Regions from separate parts of the Homo sapiens genome. Here region 2 is linked to region 1. The links come from fine-mapping of genetic effects on gene expression. A gene starts in region 1. The other region holds a variant in brackets. All regions are shown on one strand. Distances are between the middles of the regions.

Region 1 (2,910 bases):
CTACCCTGGCTCACTAAGCTTCAGGCACTCTGGTGTGCTTCCTGCTCTGCAATTCCTCATTGGTTCCCTTGTGAGTATGTTGAGGAAGGAGTGAAACACGAGAGACACAGGATATAGAGTGGATAGGACACGGTGGCTGCTGGTGTGTGCGCACAAGAAAGGCTGGAAGAGGCTTTTCCCAGAAGTGGGGGCTAAGCCCTGTTCCACTCACCATAGCAAAGAGGTTGTCATAGCCTTTGACCTTGGTAGGCACCTTTGAGAACTTCTGGTCAAAAGCATCTGAGATGTTGTGTGCTGGGTCTGTGGAGATGATCAGAACACTCTCACGCCCCTTGGAGAGCTGGACTGCCAGGCTGCAGCTGAGTAATGGAAAAGTCAAAAGATAGGGGATGAGGGGATGGGCTCTGTTCCCTGGGTCTGCAAGGGGAGTGGTAGGTTCCCTGGAGCAGGTGACCCGAATCAGCAGGGGCCTTGAGAGGAGAGTATGGGTTATGGTGGGATTGAGCCTCAGTCCCTACAAAGGAACCCTCTCTGATTTATCTCCTGACCCCTCTATGTGGACTAGAGAGGTAAGGTTCAGCTGACTGAGTCTGTCTGGCCTAGTGCCTGCTTCTTTTTTGCTGGGCACAGTGGCATGGCCCAGCGGTCCAGCCAGCATAGCTTGACTCCGTGCCCCCTTCCTTAATAAGCTAAGGGGTCTCCTGCATTCCCTAGTAAGCACAGGATGGTTCAGTCTGCTTGTCCAGGATAATCTGTCCAACGGACACCTCCTGCCTGTAGCTGCCTGGGACAGTCTCATCACGTGCTCTCTCCCTCGCTTTCCACCCTCACTCTCGCCTTGGGCATAAAACACCAAGGTTCACCAAACTAGGATTGCTTGTTCTGGTGCCGCCCTCACCCACAACTCTGGATTCACTCAGGTACGGTCCAGCTGATGGGGATATCTAAGTGCTTCCCCGTCCCCCGGGCGCTGAGTTCACTGTGGTTCGGCACTTGAGCCCCAACACGGATGGTCCAACTCAGAGGGTGCTAGGGCTGCATTGAGGTCTTTCTCATTTGCTCCAGGTAACTTCCAGAGAGTGAAACCCAAAGACCCCCGCCAGCCCCCATGCCCCGGTCGTGGTGGAAAAGCCGGTCCTTGGCCTCCCCTTCGCCCAGTGGTATATCCTACACGCCTCCTGGCCCCCGCCGCAGCCTCCTTACCTGCAGGTGGTCTTGCCCACACCACCCTTGCCCCCGACGAAGATCCACTTCAGGCTGCGCTGCTCGATGATGTTGCTAAGTGTAGGCTCCAGCGGCTCCACATCAGGAGCATCTTCGAACTCCTCTGCCTCAACCCCCCACCCGGCCACCCCTGCCGCCATTTTGGAACTGGCTCACGTGATCCAGCGGAGCGCACCATACGAAGAACCTACAGGGGAAATTCTCTATCACATTCCTAGCGAAGCTAGGAGCATGAGTTAATTTCCTCATTACTTGCCTTTTAGGAGAAATATAAATTATATTTTCACTATTCTTTGCTTCCAGGGTTCACTTTGTCAACCTCTGGTCTATAATTTTCCAAGGGTTCCCCCTACCTAATGAACACATCGGTACGGTCTAGGCTACTCCCTTTCACTGATTGGGCCCTAGGTCTTGCAGCTCTCCTTTCATTGGCTATGTCTTTTCTTACTTACACCAATCACTCTTATGTTCCGGTAGCGCCAACCTCACCTTAGCAACCAGCCAAACACCCAGTCCATGCCCTTTCGGTGAAGTTAGATTCCCGGTCCTCCTTGGCCTGACTCCATAGGCTCAACTTTATGTCCATCATTTTCCCTCTATTCTTCACGGTAGGTCCCAACCTCACCTCAGGTCCGCCCCCTCTGTTATTCAATAGGCTGTGAGCCTCTTGGCTCTTGCCGCAAACCAATCATAGACGAATTGACTCGGTTGGCGATAGGTCCCCGGGCTGATAGTGGCTTAGAGTGGGCGAGTCCACAGAGTCTTGTCCTGTACGCCCTGATCTCCCATGCCTAGCAGACACCATTCCTGCAATTGCGCTCCGTTTCGTAGAAGGAATTCCTAAAAGTCTCCTTGTATTTCAAGAGAAGACTCCAGTATACCATATTTCATGTTTGAACCTCTGTCTTAGAGCAGGAACAGAAGCTGGGTTCCAGGCCCTTGATGGAGACCCCAGCCCATGACACTCTTAACTTTAGAGGGAGACTACAGACTAGAAATAACCCCGACTTCATCTGAATACTACAGCTCATAAAATAAGCTGATTCTCGGGCCGGGCGCGGTGGCTCACGCCTGTAATCCTACCACTTTGGGAGGTTGAGGCGGGTGGATCACCTGAGGTCAAGAGTTCGGGACCAGCCTGGCCAAGATGGTGAAAACCTGTCTCTACTAAAAATACAAAAATTAGCCGGGCGTGGTGGCACGCGCCTGTAATCCCAGCTACTTAGGAGGCTGAAGCAGGAGAATCGCTTGAACCCGGAGGGCAGAGGTTGCAGCGAGCCGAGATTGCGCCACTTCACTCCACTCCAGCCTGGGTGAAAGAGTGAAACTCCGTCTCTAAATAAATAAATAAAATAGGCTGGGCGCGTTGGCTCACGCCTGTAATCCCAGCACTTTGGGAGGCCGAGGCAGGCAGATCACGAGGTCAGGAATCGAGACCAGGTTGAGGCAGAAGAATCGCTTGAACTCGGGAGGCGGAGGTTGCAGTGAGCCGAGATCACGCCACTGCACTCCAGCCTGGGCGACAGAGAGAGACTCCGTCTCAAAAAATAAAATAAAACAAAATAAAATAAAGTAATAATAACAATAATAAAATAAAAAAGTAAGCTGATTCTCAGACGGGGACTTCAGCTCCACAGAGCCAGCTATGTCCCCAACAAATGTGAGCTTTATCCCAGAGATGGTTAC
Region 2 (2,910 bases), 510 kb before region 1:
GGAGGCTGAGGTGGGAAGATATTTTGAGCCCAGGAGGTGGAGGTTGCAGTGAGCTATGATCATGCCACTGCACCCCAGCCTGGGCAACAGCAAGACTCCATCTTTAAAAAACAAACACAGAGGTCAGGCACAGTGACTCACACCTGTAATCCCAGCACTTTGGGAGGCAGAGGCAGGCAAATCACTTGAGCCTAGGAGTTCGAGACCACCCTGGCCAACATGGCAAAACCCCATCTCTACTAAAACTACAAAAAATTAGCCTGGCGTGCTTGTGGGTGCCCATGATCCCAGCTACTCAGGAGGCTGAGGCAGGAGAATCGCTTGAACCCACAAAGTGGAGGTTACAGTGAGCTGAGATCACACCACTGCACTCCAGCCTGAGCAACAGAGCAAGTCTCAAAAAAATAATAATAATAAAAATAAATATGTCTTTATTTTTCACCAGCCACTAACTAAATTTTAACATTTCCTTCCATCTTAAAGGGAGATAACAAACCCTTAGTATTAGTATTATCAACCCTTAATATTATCAACATGACCTGTGTCACTTATAAACATCAGATATTTTCATACTGCATTATAAGAGCTGCAGATACCTTAACATTTAATTTGCATTCATCATTGCTTTAAAATGTTGCTTGTGATTAAACCTACAGCTAGAATTTGTTACTCAGTGTTTTTTTGTTGTTGTTCTGTTTTGTTTTGTTTGAGACAGTCTCGCTGTTGCCCAGGCTGGAGTGCAGTGGCGCAATCTCGGCTCACTGAAAGCTCCACCCCCTGGGTTCACGCCATTCTCCTGCCTCAGCCTCCCGAGTAGCTGGGACTACAGGTGCCTGCCACCACACCTGGCTAATTGTTTGTATTTTTAGTAGAGATGGGGTTTCACCATGTTGGCCAGGATGGTCTTGATTTCCTGACCTCATGATCCGCCCGCCTCGGCCTCCCAAAGTGCTGGGATTACAGGCGGGAGCCACCGCACCCGGCCTACTCAGTGTGTTAATGGAGAAGTATATTCATTGTTAGATCGCCATTTTTAAAACTTTTTTTTTTTTTTTGAGACACAGTCTTGCTCTGTTGCCCAAGCTGGAGTACCGTGGCACAATCTTGGCTCACTGAAACCTCCACCTCCTGGGTTCAAGCGATTCTCCCATCTCAGCCTTCTGAGTAGCTGGGACTACAGATGCACACCAGCATGCCAGGCTAATTTTTATATTTTTAGTAGAGACGGGGTTTCACCATGTTGGCCAGGCTGGTCT[C/T]GAACTCCTGGCATCAAGCAATCTGCCTGCTTCAGCCTCCCAAAATGCTGGGATTACAGGCATGAGACACTGTGCCTAGCCTTAAAAAATATTTTGATAGCTATTTTATTACAAAAGGTAACCTTGAAGCCCTTGCTATTTTGTTATGCATTTACAAGCCTTTATGCATAAAATAAAATAGCCAGCACTATTCTCACATGGCCAAGGTTCATAGCACACACACAAAAGTATAGTTGGCTGAGTGCGGTGGCTCACACCTGTAATCCCAACACTTTGGGAGACAGAGGTGGGTGGATCATGAGGTCAAGAGATCCAGACCACCCTTGCCAACATGGTGAAACCCCATCTCTACTAAAAAGTACAAAAATTAGCTGGGTGTGGTGGCGCATGCCTGTAGTCTCAGCTACTCGGGAGGCTGAGGCAGGAGAATCATTTGAACGTGGGAGGCGGAGGTTGCAGTGAGCCGAGATCTTGCCACTGCACTCCAGCCTGGGTGACAGAGTGAGACTCCATCTCAATAAATAAATAAATTAAATTAAATTAAATTAAAATTATTTTTTAAAAAATTGGGGGCTGAGTGTGATGGCTCACACCTGTAATCCCGGCAGTTTGGGAGCTTGAGGAGGGCAGATCCCTTGAGGTCAGGAGTTCAAGACCAGCCTGGACAACATGGTGAAACCCCGTCTCTACTAAAAATACAAAAATTAGCCAGGCATGGTGGCGTGTGCCTGTAATCCCAGCTACTCGTGAGGCTGAGGCCCAAGCATCGCTTGAACCTGTGAGGCGGAGGTTGCAGTGAGCCAAGATGGCACCAGTGCACTCCAGCCTGGGTGACAGAGTGAGACTTTGTCTCAAAAAAAAAAAAAAATTAAGGTGAAGAAGGCTTATACTAGTGGGCTGGGACTTGAAGTGAAGTGAATTCTTGAAGGTCCCCAGTGAGTGGCCAAGGTGGGACTTGAACCAGGACATCTGTTCTCTTGACCACCAGCTTAGTCCATCCCTTTGAAGAGAGTGACCTACAGTCTGGGTCTCAGCCAGGGTCTCAGGAAACCAGGTTCCCACCTTGGCTCACGGAGGTGGTTAGGGGCATCAGCTTTAGCACCAGAGTTCAGATCTTGCCTCGTCCTATATAAGCTTTGTCACCTCCCCATCATTAAAAGGAGCCATCCTCCCCCTCCACCTCAGCAGAGCCCTGGTAAACAGCAAATGGACTAACGTGCATCTAGAGGGTTGAGGATGAAGCCTGGCCTGGCATGGGCACTCAATAAATGCTAGGGGCCAGGCACGGTGGCTGACACCTGTAATCGCAGCACTTTGGGAGGCTGAGGCAGGTGGATCGCTTGAGCCCAGGAGTCTGAGACCAACCTGGACAACATAGTGAGATTCTGTCTCTACAAAAAGTACAAAATTAGCCTGGTGTGGTGGCGTGCACCTGCAGTCCCATCTACTTAGGAGGCTGAGGTGAGAGGATGGATTCAGCCCAGGATGTCAGGGCTGCAGTGAGTCGTGATTGAGCCGCTGCACCCCACCCTGGGTGACAGAGCAAGACCCTGTATCAAAATAAATAAATAAATGCTAGGAAAGGGATCCTACTAATGGACCTTTTTCCTCCAAAACAGTGGCTTTCATTTGGTGGAGATGCTACTTATTAGAA

Evidence for each region. PIP is the estimated chance that this variant, and not a neighbour inherited with it, causes the effect. A credible set is the group of variants that fine-mapping cannot tell apart.
Region 2: its variant is the best candidate, but not a certain one, in a credible set for the expression of GET3 in stomach (GTEx, PIP 0.62).

Annotation. Positions count from the first base shown.
Region 1 is chr19:12,735,960-12,738,869 of GRCh38, reverse strand. It overlaps GET3 (guided entry of tail-anchored proteins factor 3, ATPase), which reads right to left and starts at 1,373. Exons shown (of 7, transcript NM_004317.4): 1 at 1,204-1,373; 2 at 212-359. The coding sequence starts at 1,364. RefSeq lists enhancers at 1,208-1,267, 1,388-1,447, 1,230-1,825, a silencer at 1,838-1,937 and a cis regulatory region at 1,162-2,019.
Region 2 is chr19:13,249,277-13,252,186 of GRCh38, reverse strand. The region is part of intron 30 of CACNA1A (calcium voltage-gated channel subunit alpha1 A); the gene reads left to right. Among named protein-coding and RNA genes, the nearest start is that of IER2, 100 kb to the right of the region's middle. The variant C/T (reference allele first, on the strand shown) is at 1,257.